Linked DNA regions of Homo sapiens. The protein of the gene in region 2 purifies or fractionates together with the protein of the main gene of each other region. This does not show direct contact. Each region holds a gene or a part of one and is shown on either strand. Other genes may lie near its edges.

What was found.
Region 1: the proteins of MAML1 (region 2) and RND3 purify together in Homo sapiens (affinity purification with western blotting; one study listed by BioGRID). This does not show direct contact.

What each region holds. Positions count from the first base shown.
Region 1 is NC_000002.12:150,470,668-150,474,167, reverse strand, and holds part of RND3 (rho-related GTP-binding protein RhoE precursor), read left to right. Parts: intron 1-2,406; coding exon 2,407-2,541; intron 2,542-3,500. UniProt on the Homo sapiens protein: Binds GTP but lacks intrinsic GTPase activity and is resistant to Rho-specific GTPase-activating proteins.
Region 2 is NC_000005.10:179,767,322-179,770,821, forward strand, and holds part of MAML1 (mastermind-like protein 1), read left to right. Parts: intron 1-1,528; coding exon 1,529-1,768; intron 1,769-3,500. UniProt on the Homo sapiens protein: Acts as a transcriptional coactivator for NOTCH proteins. Has been shown to amplify NOTCH-induced transcription of HES1. Enhances phosphorylation and proteolytic turnover of the NOTCH intracellular domain in the nucleus through interaction with CDK8.

The DNA of each region.
Region 1 (3,500 bases), on a different chromosome or scaffold from region 2:
ACTAGGGAGGCCAGTGGGAGGAAGGGGCGTTTCTTGACCTTCAGCAGTTGAGACTCAGCCTCCAGGTAGTTGTAGAAGGCACATGCCGTGTTAGTCCATGGATCAGCATTTATTAGCCACTAGCTATTTTCTCAGCCCTGGCCTGTGTGCTGTGGGGTTTCAGAATCAGATCCTTGTTGGAGCACTCCCTCTCCTCCACACACTGGCTTCAACACCGGATGTGGCTGAGAGCAAGGCAGTGTCAACTGAGGGGTGACCCATGCAGCCCAGTCTGAGTATGGTATGGATTGAGAAAGACAAACATGCAGGTGTGGCTAGGTTGGTTTTGTTTTTTTCATTTTAATTTTTAGTGGAATTTATTTGTATTTTGTGTGTTTTTATTAGTTTACATTCCCCTATTATATTTGATTGCTTGGCTTGTGTGTCATTGTGAAATCAGGATTTGAAGTATAATAATCCTTCTGTCTCTACTAAATATTACAAACAGAGTTCAATAAAACTCTTAGTAGATCTCTTTCTTAATAGATCAAAGACTCTTTTTTCCTTTTTAGCTCCTTTCAATTTTGAGTAATACATATCTAACACAAATAATGCTAATGCTTGTCAAATCCAGGCAGGAATACACCTTTCCTGTCTTTAATGCTTGTAAACAATTGCTAGACATGCAGAGGGAGGCCAAAGTCATTACACAGCTGAAGAGCAACATAACAACATGTCTAGTTCTGTCTGGAGATAAAAGGGGTTGCTTATTTACTAGAGATTTTACTTGATGTAGTATCAGGCTATGCATAATTTATGATGAAAAGCCTTTCTCCTGTTTTATTTTGCTTTTGTCTTCTAAGACCAAATGAATAGTGACTTTGGGCTTATAGATATTAATGAGTATGTTTTACATTCCTGTGAGGTTTAAGGCTCATGATAACCCCTGCGGTTTGTCTTGATTAATGGAACCCTTTAAGTCCTTCACTATCAAAGAGGAGGTTAGAATGACTTGAAGTAGGGAGGATTTCTTTTTTTTTTTTTTCCAGTTCACCTTCCACTTCTAATGCCAGTGCCACCTAGCATGTGGTAGGTGTTCCTACATAATTCTGAAAGGAGTGAGGGAGAGAGGGAGAGAGGAAGGGAGGGAGGAAAGAAGGAAAGAAGGAAGGAAGGAAGGGAGGGAGGGAGGGAGGAAGGGAGGAATAAGTGGACAAAATGGGCTCTTATGGAAAGTATATTACTCCTTTGAATCCTCTGGTGTAGTTTGCACTAGAGTTCGTTACCCAAAGTACACCCCTAGATTTGGAGATGTCTCCTCTAGTGATCTTTTAAGTTATTCTTGCAGGATGTCCCTCTTATCTAGTGTTATACTTAATACATGACTTCATCACCCCCAGTATTCTGTGAATTTCCTTCCAGAAGACACAGCTATGTCTTAGTCATCATTGTCACTGCCACAGTACTTAGTAGAACACTTACATATTTGTGAATGTGGGTGGGAAGAGTCAGGCGCCACTTCCCCATCTCAGCCTCTCTAGGCCCTGCCCTCAAAGGCCAAAGATCTCCTGTGACCGCCCTGAACTCTTGACTCCCATGCTGTTGCAGAGCTCAAGCTTGAGGAAATGAAGCCACAAAAAGCTGCTTGCTTGTTCTTAAAGAGGACAGTTGGAATTCCAAGCCAGGCATTGCTGAAGGTTCTAATAATTCTTGTTAGATCATGAAACAACTAGACAAATTGGAATAGATTGAAATAGTTTTAAACTAACTTGAAGGCATATGAGCTACAGGACCAGCTGCCTTCCCGATGACCCAAGAGATGTTCCTTTGCAAATGTCATGGTCTGTGTTGATGCAACCATGTGAACAGAAACTCCTTCAAGGCAGGATGTTCTGTTTTATTAACTATCTCAGGTACTTAAAATAGAGCCTCAGCTCGTGGTGGCATGCTTCAGTGTTTCATGATGGGATCAGGGAATGCATACTTGTGCTAGTGTTGCCTCTGCCTTATCCCCAGCCTTCTAGTGAAGGAGGATCAGATCCACACATCGAAGGATGTGGTCACTTGTTAGGATATATAATTATTCTTAAGACACATTTATCTTTAAGAGACACACCAATAATTAAGACATTATTGAAGCTACCTTTGGACAACATCTACCAAGTCTCTTTCAGTAGCAACAGATGAGTCACAGAGAGGGAGAATCAATCATAATATACATAATTATTCTCTAATGCTTAAAAAGTAGTAAAACTTCACATCTGTTCAGGAGATAAATGCAAAGTTTGCTTCTTCATCTCAAGGGACACTCCATTTTTAACATCTTTTCTGAGTTTCATTCTAATGTCAGCCAGTGGAGAAATGGTTTTCATGATATGGATACCGTTACTTTGTTCATTTTTAATCTTTTTTTTTTTTCTTTCATAGTGGAAAGGTGAAATCCAGGAATTTTGTCCAAATACCAAAATGCTCTTGGTCGGCTGCAAGTCTGATCTGCGGACAGATGTTAGTACATTAGTAGAGCTCTCCAATCACAGGCAGACGCCAGTGTCCTATGACCAGGTATGTATGTTGCCCATGTGCAAAACTGGATTTTAGAAAGAGTGAAAGAAATGGACTATCACTCATAATAAATAAAATAAAAAGTAGCTGCTTTTCTAAAGGCTCACCCAGTGGTCAGTTGTGAAATTTAAAATGCTGTCATTTATTAGTGTAATTACATGATATTCGGGTACATAAACAGTTGATATGCTAACCTTGTATATTTCTGCACCTCCCAGTAGGTTTAAAGTTAAATAGGTTTAAGAGAGAATGTGGTCAAAATCAGTAATACTCTTTAAGAGGGGTAATCTGATTTTACAGTCGGCAGTACAATAATAAGGCTGTTGCCAGTAAAGTGGAACACTCCATAACACCATCTTTCAGAGAGTCTTCATTTCTGTAAGCATTTCCCCCAAGTATTTAGAAATGAGAATCAGTTTCAAAAGCTCATTCTCATAAAACCTACAACCAGATTCTAAAGAGAGTTCATGTTGAAATACCAAAATTTTATTAAGAATCATCATTTTAAATACCGCAGTCTTCTTAGTCTTCCATTTCTCATTAGCAAAAAATTTGGTATTTTAAATAAGTAGTTTTGGTTAATGTGCACATGCTTATTGTTGTGTACGTTGGTGGTATGGTTCACACTTAGAAATTACATATGTTGTGTTTCATAAAGTAACAGATGTTACAATAGTATTATTCCTTTCCTCAACGCATTTCGGCCCTAAGTAAGACACAATCACATACATTTCAAAATCGATTTTAAATTTCATTCATTGCCCCTGTTTTTGGTACAACCTAGTCACTAGTCTTGAATGCCATTTACCCTCAAGAAAAGAGAAATGAAGTGCACCATGAGGCGCTGGAACAGGTTCTCAAGGCCACATCGCCACGGCCAGAGCTGTGTGGAAAATGCAGAGTTTATGTTCATGACCTTCAGCTAACTTACTTCACTAGTAAGCTTCTCTGCGCCATTC
Region 2 (3,500 bases):
TTGTAATACATGCTAAAATTTTGCAAATTAAAAAGCCCAGTGCCGGTAATATCATGAGGAAATAGACACACTCCTGTATTGATGAGAGTGTGTAAATGAGCTCACTGCTTTTGGGAAGTCATTTGACATTATGTATTTTTCACATGCTGTAAAATGTTCATATGCATTGACACACTATATACCCGACAAGTTGATCTAAAGAAATAATCCAAAATAAAAGAAAAAGTTATATCCAAGATATTCATTGTGTGGTTATTTCTAATAGCCAAAAACTGTAAGCCATTTAAGCATCTCCCAGTGCTGATAATTCCACTTACTTCAGCCAGTAAGATGTCTCACGCCGTTCAGCACCCCCTGAAGAGAGGCTCAGCTGCACACAGTGAGGGTGCTTGCCATCTGGGTAGCACTTTGCAACTTACGAAGCACTCTCAGTAGTTCTTAAGCTTCTGGTGATTAGAGTGAAGAAATTATACCAGAATCTTAGAATGAATAACTAGAAAGGAGCTCAACAATTTGAACTGGTTTAAATAATGATTGCTTTTTGCCTATCTTCTGCTAAGTTCCCCTTTTCTTCTAAGTGTCAGTAATGACGGGATAATATTGTGGTGGCCTTTGACATGACTCTCACTTGTGGTCTATATATTGACAGAGAATATCTGTTAAAGTTCTCATTGATTCTCAGTATTTTTTGAGGATGGGTATTTGACAAAAGCTAAGCAGTCTCTTCCAGTAAAATGCTTGCGCAGATGTACAGTTTCGGGTCGTTCAGGGATAGCCCGAAATCCAAGGTTTATGCACATGGGACAGAGTGGTCTCCATTGACCAAAGCCCCCTTCAAAGTGTTCTTCCCCTAGGCCGGGTGCAGTGGCTCATGCCTGTAATCCCAGCACTTTGAGAGGCCGAGGTGGGTGGAGCACCTGAGGTCGGGAGTTCGAGACCAGCGTGACCAACATGGAGAAACCCCCATCTCTACTAAAAATACAAAATTAGCCAGGTGTGGTGGCACATGCCTCTAATCCCAGCTACTCAGGAGGCTGAGGCAGGGGAATCGCTTGAATTCGGGAGGCAGAGGTTGCGGTGAGCCAAGATCGTGCCATTGCACTCCAGCCTGGGCAACAAGAGCGAAACTCCGTCTGAAAAAAAACAAAAAGTATTCTTCCCCTATTGGCCCGCTCTGCACTCAGATGTCCTGATAAGTGAGCATTTCTAAGCCTCGATTGCTTACTGGAACTATTGTGTGCAAATATGAAAGCTTACATATGCTTAACGTAAAACCATACCTTTGTCACTGGTGAATCACTGGGAGTAAAACTAACACCTATGGAGTAATTGTTCGTTGCTAGGCGCCTGTATGCTCAGATGTCATCACTTTTGGTCTGTGCTCCAGCCCTGTGGGATGGTTGTTATTCGAGGTCAGAAGGGAAGCAGAGACTTGGCTTCAAGAGAGTGAACCTTGAATTCACTGGATGGAGCTTATTTGGTCTGATCAGAGCTTAGAGACTTCACAGTCCCCTATCTGTGTTGACAGGAGCAGAACCCTTCCAGTGTCCCTGTGCAAGCCCAGGCTACCAGTGTTGGGACCCAGCCGCCTGCCGTGTCCGTGGCCAGCTCCCACAACAGCTCCCCCTATCTCAGCAGCCAGCAACAGGCCGCTGTAATGAAGCAGCATCAGTTGCTTTTGGACCAACAGAAACAAAGGGAGCAGCAGCAAAAGCATTTACAGCAACAGCAGTTCCTTCAGAGGCAACAGCACCTTCTCGCGGAACAGGTAAAAAGAAAAGTGGAAGGAAACCACCGCTTCCCACCTTTGCCTGCACCCTGCGTCACTGCTACAGTCACACCTTCTGCTTGTGCGTGTGGATTTGCGCAGACTTGCGTGCCTGTTGTTAGAGTGCTTTGCCTTTTAAAAACATCTTTCCAGGAATGTGGCATTTCTCAGACAGGGGTAGTCTTGTCAGAAGCTGCTTCGTGTCACTTAGTGGAGAGTACTCAAGGCAGACTCGGGGGCTAAAACTGTTTGTGGAAGGGACATTTTCCTATGTTTCAGGTCAGCAGCTTCCAAGCCACTGAGCTCACGTGTCTGTCATTCCACTATGGAGTCAGCTTTGCTGCCACTACAGAGCCTGTTATAAGCCAGAACGTGAAGAGGGAAGTGAAGTCATCCCTGAGGGAAACACAGTTCACTCGCTTGGTTAGCAAGTGTAGTGTGCAGGCACTAAGGGTTACAAGTGAGAGTTCTTTTTTTTTTTTGGAGACAGAGTCTTGCTGTCACCCAGGCTGGACTGCAGTGGTGCGATCTTGGCTCACTGCAGCCTCCACCTCATGGGTTCATGCAATTCTCCTGCCTCAGCCTCCCGAGTAGCTGGGACTACAGGCAAGAACCACCATGCCTGGCTAATTTTTGTGTTTTTAGTAGAGATGGGGTTTCACCACGTTGGCCAGGCTGGTCTTGAGCTCCTGACCTCAAGTGATCCACTCATCTCGGCCTCCCAAAGTGCTGAGATTACAGGCGTGAGCCACCACGCCTGGCCTTAAATTACATCTTTAAGACATAAGAACTGGCTCCAGACAGTGAGGTTCATTGAGGACAATCCCTGCCTCAGTTCTGCCTTTAAGAAAAGCAGCTTTATTGTGATGTAACTCACACAGCATACACTTCACCCACGTAAGTGAACAATTTAGTCATTTTTAGTATATCACAGAGTTGTGCAACCATTACCACAATCCATTTTAGAACATTTTCATTACCCTAAAACAAATCCCATACCCATGAGCAGCCATTCTCCCATCCACCCTGCCTCTCCAGCTCCTGATCTACTTTCTGTCTCTATAATTGTCTGCTCTGGGCTGGGCGCAGTGGCTCACTCCTATAATCCCAGCACTTTGGGAGGCCGAGGTGGGCGGATCACGAGGTCAGGAGATCAAGACCATCCTGGCTAACACAGTGAAACCCCGTCTCTACTAAAAATACAAAAAATTAGCCAAGTGTGGTGACGGGCGCCTGTAGTCCCAGCTACTCGGGAGGCCGAGGCAGGAGAATGGCGTGAACCTGGGAGGGGAGCTTGCAGTGAGCAGAGATCGCGCCACTGCACTCCAGCCTGGGCGACAGAGCAAGACTCCATCTCAAAAAAAAAAAATTGTCTGTTCTGGACATTTTATATTTATGTTATGTCATTTTCAATCATGTGCTAGGTAACAGCAATTGATTCCTCTTGATAATAATATTCCATTGTATGGACATGTTACATTTTATTCATTCGTCTGTTCATGAACATTTGGGTTTCTTGTTTGGGCTGTTAATGAGTATTGCTGCTATGAACATTCATGTACAAGTTTTCATATAGACATCTGTTTTCATTTTTCTTGGGTAGATACCTGGGAGTGGAATTGCTGGATCACATGGTAATTTTTATGTTTAACCTTTGGAGGAACTGTCAGACTGTTTCCCACAGGCTGTCTCATTTTACATTCCCACCAGCGGTGTATGAGGGTGCTGATTT